2 separate regions of the Homo sapiens genome follow, and region 2 is linked to region 1. Evidence: fine-mapped expression QTL. A gene starts in region 1. The other region holds a variant in brackets. All regions are shown on one strand. Distances are between the middles of the regions.

The links. PIP is the estimated chance that this variant, and not a neighbour inherited with it, causes the effect. A credible set is the group of variants that fine-mapping cannot tell apart.
Region 2: its variant is the best candidate, but not a certain one, in a credible set for the expression of MRPL22 in coronary artery (GTEx, PIP 0.79).

What each region holds. Positions count from the first base shown.
Region 1 is chr5:154,938,681-154,943,076 of GRCh38, reverse strand. MRPL22 (mitochondrial ribosomal protein L22) reads right to left here and starts at 2,004. Exons shown (of 7, transcript NM_014180.4): 1 at 1,939-2,004; 2 at 1,812-1,860. The coding sequence starts at 1,966. RefSeq lists an enhancer at 1,905-2,064.
Region 2 is chr5:155,021,785-155,026,180 of GRCh38, reverse strand. No RefSeq gene overlaps it. Among named protein-coding and RNA genes, the nearest start is that of KIF4B, 10 kb to the right of the region's middle. RefSeq lists an enhancer at 1,718-2,012. The variant T/G (reference allele first, on the strand shown) is at 2,345.

The sequences.
Region 1 (4,396 bases):
TTATACCTTTCTACTTAGTTTTCTTATGGTCATTTTCCCCACTAGAAAATCCAAAATAAGGATTCACAAAATTATGTAATAACTTCAGAATTGCAAATAGCCTTAGAGATTATCTAGCAAAATCAAACACTCTTGTATCATGACATAGAGGAAAAGACTAAAGGCAAACTGCTTAAGTTTCTTGCTCAGAGCTTCTTAATACAAGTTGGTGCAAGACAATTCAAATCAACATCAAAATACTTGCCTGTGTAAGACCTTATGCTGGAGGTACAACAATAAATAAATGTCCCTACTTCTCCAAGATACACAAGCTAGTAAAGGGCACATACACATATACATGAAGTCATCATAGAAGGCACACATGCTAAAAGGAAGGAAAAACTAATTTCTTTCCGTTTTAGAGAAACCAGTGAAAACTTCCTGAAGGGAAAACATCTGAACAGAGGTTTGAATAATGGGTAGGACTGCTGTTATAGACAAGATGTGAGGGCATAGTAGGAAAAGCCAAGAAGCAAGTAAGTGCAAAGTATATTCAGAAAAAGTAAGTAAATCAGCATGGTTGGGGGAAGAGTGATAGAAGATTATCTAAGAAGAGTACAGACAAATCCTAAGAGCTACTACTTCCTATTTTCTTCTTTAGCCCACCTCTTTATCCCCCTCGGACCCAAAAACTTAGAAAAGGGTTAAATATAATTGGGAACTCAGTAATAATTTATAATAATAAAAACATTAATGGCAACTAGAATTCAGAGTGGGATTATCACATGCCATAAACATACTAAATACTTCATATGCATTATCTTGTTTGAATTTCCTTTTTAAAATCTACTAGAGCTACATAGATGGCATGTGCCTGTAATCCCAGTACTTCAGGAGGCTGAGGCAAGAGAATTGTTTCAGCCCTTAAGTTTGAGACCAGCATGGGCAACATAGCAACACTTCATCTAAAAAAATAAATAAATAAAAATTAAAAAATTTTTTAAATCCTAAGAGATAGGTACTAACATAACGCTCATATCATAAAAGTGATAACTGAAGCTTATTAAGAATAAGTAACTTTTCCAAGATCACAGTTAAAAAATGGATTCATATACAACTCATCTGTCTGCAAAGCCTATGAACTAAACCAAAATCAATGCTAACAAATGGACAGACCAGAAAATTTACAATCAGATTATCAATTTTCAAATACCGATTTTTTATTTTGGGGAGAAATACAGCGACTACTTACCCTAACCTTTAATGAATGCTTTTGTCCTAAGGCTACAGAATGCTCTGGTATAAAGCTTCAAAATTTCCTACAACTGAGTGGCCTTAGGCAAGTTATTTTACGTTTGGGGACTTCAATTTCCTTGTCTGAAAAACGGGTATAGCAGAACCTACTCGTAGAATGTTATGAGAGTGAGTTAAAGCATATAAACCGCTAAACACAATGTCAGGTACGACGTAAAGCAGAGTTGTCCACAACACGGTCCCTGCCCATGTAAGCAAGTAATCAGAGAGGTAACTTGAAAAGTTGGACGCTTCCATATGGAGATGGAATAGTCTAACCTTGTCCAGAAAGATCACAGTAGACGTTCGGAAATCGCATTTACAATCGCCCTTGGGTTATGGGTAATCCTGATCCCTGTACAGTTTATGCAATAAGGTGGAGAAAAAATAGAGTGACAAAGCAGAGACTCGGGCTGTCTCATTCGCCTCAGTAACCCCAGAGCCTAAAACACAGTTAGGCACGGAGGCGCTCAGTTACCAACTGGCAGAATACTAAAGATGCCTTGGGCCCTTCCGAAACTCCGAAGCGAGAGACTCACCCCAAGGCCAGCTTCCCCCGGCTCCTCAGGTTATGTATCCATAACGCACCTGCAACATCAACACAAGCCGTCAACTCAGATTCCATCTCGACTCCCTTCTGTCGCTTAACCACTAAGAAATCCTTACCCAACTGTCCCAGTACTGCCGCCGCCATCTTTCGCCCTCCCGCTACGGAAGCCGCCGAGTTCAAGCGCCTTCTGGACAGCACGCATGCGCAATACTCTGGATTTCCTGTGGGGCTCTCCCACAAGCAGTACTTACACCCCAGGTGCCGTCACGAAGATCGCAAGCACTGGGCCGGCGCTCGAGGTGTGGTCAGGCGAACCTGGCTTGGGAATGAATTAATTAATAAAGGCCGAAAGCACGTGGGCTTCCGAAAATTCACCTGGATTCAGAAAAACTAAAGTCCCAACTCACAAACTAGAAAGGAGTAGGGGAACAGAATCCGTGAACAAGCCACCTAATCCGGTGGTCCTCAGTTTTCTTATCAGAAATGACTAACCTTAGGGCACAAGCTTGTTGTAAAGATCAGTTGAAATAGTGTGAAAGCTATTTTATTTCATTTTATTGAAACAGGGTCTCTCTCTCGCTTAGGCTGGAGTGTGGTAGCAATGACCTAGTCTCACTGCAGCCTCGACCCCGGGCTCAAGCCACCCTCTTACCTCAGCCTCCCAAGTAGCTGTGACTACAGGCGCACATCACCACGCCCGGCTAATTTTTGTATTTTTTATAGATAAGGAGTTTCCCCAAATTGCCCAGGCTGATCTCGAATTCCTGGGCTCAAGCAATCTGCCCTCCTCGGCCTCCCAAAGTGCTAGGATTAGAGGTATGAGCCACGAAACCTAGCCTAAAATCTCTTTTAAAGAGCAAATAGTTCAAATATGATGTATGCTGTCCTAATCCCTACTAATCTGGTTGACCTTCAAGAATGAGTTTATATTCATCTGGCATTTACTGCCTTATGTCAGGCAGGTATTTCACTAAATCTCATTTATTCCTCACAGCAATCCAACAAGGCATGGATTATCATTTTCCTTCTTCAAATGAGGAAACATATTTAGGATATGTTAAAGTCTCTCAACTAACAACTGGCAAACCAGTGATCAATCTACGACTAGGTGCCTCCAAATTTGTGCCCCTAGACGCCTTCAAATATATGTATTTGACCCCTCTGTATTAGAATAACAGGTAGTTCAGATTGCGGTTTGCTACCTATGCAGGAATGTCAGATACCCAATGCAAACAAGCAACACACGAGTAGTGCAGAATCTGAGCATTTTAGCATTTTTGAGTTGAAAGGAAACTTTCTTCCACACCATTTACCACATACAGCTTCCTTCACACAGCTGGCCCTCAATCAAGCAAATCAAGAGTCACTCCATTTGCTTCTCCTTCATCTTTGAGTACCCAGAACCCAGAGCCAGAATTTCCACCCAGTTGCAGAAACTGTTCTTTCCCTTTTTAATTCCAGATTCGTACTTTCATATTTTTGTTTGTTTTGTTTTTTTGAGACAGGGTCTCACTCTATTGCCCAGGCTTGAGTGCAGTGGCTCGATCACAGCTCACACCAGCCTGTCTCCCGGACTCCATATTGTAATGCCCAACCTTGTTTTTACTAACCCTGTTTTTAGACTCTCCCTTTTTCCTCTGATCACCTAGCCTTGTTTCCACTTGAATTGACTCTTGCTTAGCTAAGAGAGCCAGACAGACTCCATCTTGGCTCTTTCACTGGCAGCCCCTTCCTCAAGAACTTAACTTGTGCAAGCTGACTCCCAGCACATCCAAGATGCAATTAACTGATAAGATACTGTGGCGAGCAATATCCGCAATTCCCAGGAATTCGTCTGATTGATAGCACCCAAAGCCCCCAGTCTATCACCTTGTAATAAATAGTCTTAAAGCCCCTGCACCTGGAACTGTTTACTTTCCTGTAACCATTTATCCTTTTAACTTTTTGCCTACTTTATTTCTGTAAAATTGTTTTAACTAGACTCCCCTCCCCTTTCTAAACCAAAGTATAAAAGAAAATCTAGCCTCTTCTTCCGGCTGAGAGAACTTTGAGCGTTAGCCATCTCTTGGCCACCGGCTAAACAAATGGACTCTTAATTCGTCTCAAAGTGTGGCGTTTTCTCTAACTCACTCAGGTACAACAATATTTTTGTTAAGTGGCCTCTTGTGCATATCTTTTTTTGTTTTGTTTTGTTTTTATTTGAGATGGAGTCTCGCAATGTCGCCCAGGCTGGAGTGCAGTGGCGCAATCTCTGCTCACTGCAACTTCCGCCTCCCAGGTTCAAGCGATTCTCCTGCCTCAGCCTCCCTAGTATTTGTTGTCTAGGGATTGTTGCATTTTACTTTTTTTTTTTTTTTGAGATGGAGTCTCGCTGTGTGGCCAGGCTAGAGTGCAGTGGCGTGATCTCCGCTCACAGCAACTTCCGCCTCCCGGGTTCAAGCGATTCTCCTGCCTCAGCCTCCCGAGCAGCTGGGATTACAGGCGCCTGCCACCACACCCGGCTTATTTTATTATTTTATTTTATTTTTGTTTTTTAATAGAGACGAGGTTTCACTATGCTGACCAGGCCGGTCT
Region 2 (4,396 bases), 83 kb before region 1:
CCCTATTCAGGGAGAGGCTGGAAGCTAGAGTCGTGGTTCTTCTCAATCTTATGGCACTGTGCCAGGGGTAAGGGTTGAGGTGAGAGGGCGTCAAATTTTCCTACTGGCTTTGATGTGTCAAGTTTTGCACTCACCCAGGGTGAAAGAGCCTCTCAACTAGTTTCTGTATTTCTCACAAAGGGAATTTGTCCATGAATTGTTGTTGAATCAGTGTATTTGTTGGGGGAAAGGAGAGTCTAGGGCCTCTTATTCCACCATCCTGCTGCCCCAGTACTTTTTAAAAACTTTTTTCAACCAGCAAATATTTACCGGACATCCATCCACTCTGCATCTGGCACTAAGTAGGTCTTGGGACACAGTAGAATGTAAAACAGAAATTGCCCCTGCCCTCAGAAAAAGTATATTCTAGTAGCATAGGCAGGCAGAAGCAAGTAAAGAAACAAATAAAATAATTACAAATTGCATAAGTTCTACCAAAAAACAATGAGGAGATGACACGCAGAATAACAGTGAAGTTTAAGGAAAGAGGAGGTAACATTTCAGCTGAGATGCAAAGAATAAGGCAAGAAGGCCATTAAAAGAGGTGTGCCTTTGTATAATTCCATTTCTAGAAAACATCCAGAAAAACAAATATATAGACATAGAAAGTAGATTAGTGGTTGCCTGGAGCTGGGGGTGATATGGAGAGTGACTGTAAACGAGTATGGGGTTTCTTTTGGGGATGATAGAATTGGATTGTGATGGTGGTTGTATAACTCTGTAAATACACGAAAAAGATTATTGAATAGTACATTGAAAACAGTTAAATTTTATGATGTAAAATTATCTCAGTAAAGCAAGAGAGGGGGGAAAGAAAGAGAGAATAATGACTGGGAAACAATCTTTTCTGAAGGCCCCCTGACCAGCTCTCATGAAACTCACAATGCTTCTCCCGGGTTGCTCAAGATTCTGATTCGTGAATTAAAGGGACTCTATAGGAGAAGACAAAGGGTTTTTTTTTTTTCCTTACTTATCTTTTGGGTTGCTCTGACTCAAAATAGAGAACATACATTAATTACTAAGAGTGCTACTTCACATGATCCTATTTGCATTATAAGTATACTGTTCCCGAATTGTGGTTCACATAAACAGAGAGAGAGAGAGAGGTGGGAATATTATCGCAGGTGGAGGGAACTGCAGGTACAAACGTTCTCATGTGGGAAGGCATGTGGCATGTGTGAGGAACAGAGAGGACACCCCTGATCTGGACACAGAGAGAGGTAGGAAAGTAAGAGAACTGAGCAGCCAGATCACGTAAGGTCTCCTAGGTCATGGTAAAAATCAAGTTGCTTTCAACTTTATAAAACACACCCATGCCATTATTTCCTAAAGTTATTCATGTCTTATTAGGTTGCTGCAAAAGTGATTGTGGTTTTTGTCATTACTTTCAATGGCAAAAACCACAATCACTTTTGTACCAACCTTAATAATAAAGAAAGGACAGAGTATAGAGAAATGATGCCAACCTGCTGTTTTATAACGTGCTGCCCCATACTTTCTCCCATTTGCTCTGCCCAATAACCCACCCCAAAGAATCTACTTTGTTAACTTCAGTTATCAGATGAGGAAATTGAAACAACTTGCCCAAGTTGATACAGCTATTAACATGAAACCTAGGAATTATTTTTATTTATGAATGAATTATCCTTACTTTTCTAATATCTGGCTTACCAAAATCCAGATTGTCAATCTCCCTGTATCAGTTATCTGTCACAGCATAACAAATTACTCTAAGATGTAGTAACTCAACCTTTAATATTGCTCAGGAGTCTATGGGTCAGCTAGGTGGTTGTGTTGACCTGGTCCTGACTCAGCTGATCTTCACTGGGCTTGCTCATGTGTTTGCAGTCACCTGGTTGGTCTAGGGTGACCTCACTAACATGTTGGTCATTGGCTGACTGGTCACTGGGGCAAAGGAAGTAACTGGGTCACATCCCTTTAATCATGCAACAGGCTGAGGTTTTTTACATGACAACAGCGAGGTTCCAAGAGAAGAAGTGAAAGCACGCAATGCTTAAAGACGTAGGCTTAGAAGGCCAGGCGGGGTGGCTCACGCCTGTAATCTCAGCACTTTGGGAGTCTGAGGCTAGCAGATTGCTTGAGCTCAGGAGTTTGAGACCAGCCTGGGCAACATGGCAAAACTGCATCTCTACAACAAGTATAAAAATTAGCTGGGCATGGTGGCACACTCCTGTAGTCTCAGCTGCTTGGGAAGCTGAGGTGGGAGGGGGCGACCGAGCCAGACCCTGTCAAAAAAAGAAAAAAAAACGACTTAGGTTTAGAACAGACACCTATCTCTTTTGCA[T/G]TCTATTGGTCAAAGACAGTGACAAGGCCATCAGAATCAGGTATCTTTGCAAGGTATCTTTGCAATCCCATTTCACAAATAGCAAGAGGTAAGTTGTTCTTAAAGTACTAATGATTAGGAACTATATCTAGGGTCCTGCTGTTCCCTCTGATCACTGCTAGGTACCCACAGACACCTCTGGTTATAAGGAAGCACAAAAAAAATTATTATATCTGTTCATCAATTTGCCTGCTCCTTCTACATCCCCTTCTTAGAGATTCTTCTGCACAGTGTCTGGCTCGACCCCTCCACCCTGGCCATAGCTAAACCAGGTGAATGCACAAGGTGGACATTGGACCCAGTTGGGCCAAAGAAACTCTCTCTGTTTCCCAGGGCTGCCATAACAAATGACAACGACTGGGTGGCTTGAAACAACGGCAATTTATTCTCTTACAGTTCCAGAGGATGAAAATCTGAAATCAAGGTGTTGGCAGGATTGGTTTCTATGGCAAGCCCAAAGGAAAATTTGTTCCACTCTTCTCTCCTAGCTTCTGGTAGTTCCTGGTAATCCTTGGCATCCTTTGACTTGTGGAAGGGTAACTCCAATCTTTTCCTCTATCTTCACACAGCATTCTCTCCTATGCCTGTCGTCCTATAAAGACCTCAGTCATTGGATTAGGGCCCACACTAATCCAGTATGACCTCATCTTAATAAATTACACCTGTGAAGACCCTATTTCCAAATAAGGTCACATTCTGAGGTTCCAAGTAGACCATACATTTTGGGGATACACTATTCAACCCAGTACAGGCATTCTCTGTCCCAGGCATTTGGAGTCAAGACTTGGAAATGTCCATTTGCCTTTGTTGGCTCTTGAACAGAAAGGACATGTAAGGACTGAATGAAGTAGCCATTTTCTGCCATATACGTAAAAGCAGAGGACATCAGTCTGTACAGAGGAAAAGAATGAAGCAGATGTTTAGAGAGAAGCAGAGATGACAAATCATGCAAAAGATGCTGGGACAGACAGACAGACAGACAGATAGACAGACACACTTTCCATTAGTTTCTGAGGGTTTTCAGAGTCCTGGCTTAGTCCCTCATGGGGCCAGGTTGAACTTCCTACCCTTGCATTCCAGGAGATAGCTCTGTATCCTTATAATAAATGTCCTTCTTTAGGGTAAGTTATCTTGAATGGATTCTGTTTATTGAAACCTAAAGAGATCCTTAATGCCAGTGATGACCTTTTATCCTGCCAAGATAGCTTCCAGTCAGCATGACTAGGGCTTTAGCAGAAAGTATCAATCACAAAGTGGAAAGTCTCGTCCAGGATGTTGCTGCTGTCTCTGTTCCTGGCACAATGTTACAAGTAGTGATGGTTCCCAGGCCGATCACAAAAGCTTCTTTAATACTACAGTGCTATTAGCATGCTAGCTTAGCTACAGAACAGGAAGATGAATAGGTAGATGTTTAAAACTTCATACAAATAACTCAAGTAAATTCATACAATCTCTTTTAGGGCCTGCCAAAATTAGGGATATTTCTCCTCCCTTTCTAAACATTTTTTGTTTTGTTTTGTTTTTAATTTTACAAGAAAGAAAGAGACAGTGCCTGATCAACGTGTTTTCACTCTCCTTTTAATTGCAGATAGCTGCTATGTGAGACGAGTAATGTCATAATATGTTATAGACATTTTAACCATCTAATATCTTGTGAACATGTTATAAGTCGATCTTCTCCAAGAAAGAAGCCAGAACTCACTTTCCCAGGCTCCCTTGCTGCTCAGATTTAAGCACGTGATCTAGCTCTACCAGTCAGACATATGTGAGACTTCAGTTTGGAAATGAATCACATGAGAAGGCAGACACTATGCCAAATCCATATTTTAATGACTGAAGTAATGAAAGTATTGAGATTTAGGAGGCCGTAGTAGCACAGCTTCTGTGGTCCAGTCCCTCACATGATCAGTGATAGCACCATATGTATGCTGAGCAATAGTGTTGTCCTCATTGTAGTGACCCCACAGTGTGATTTGGGCTTGGTTTCTAAATGAATAGCCTCAGACTTCATCT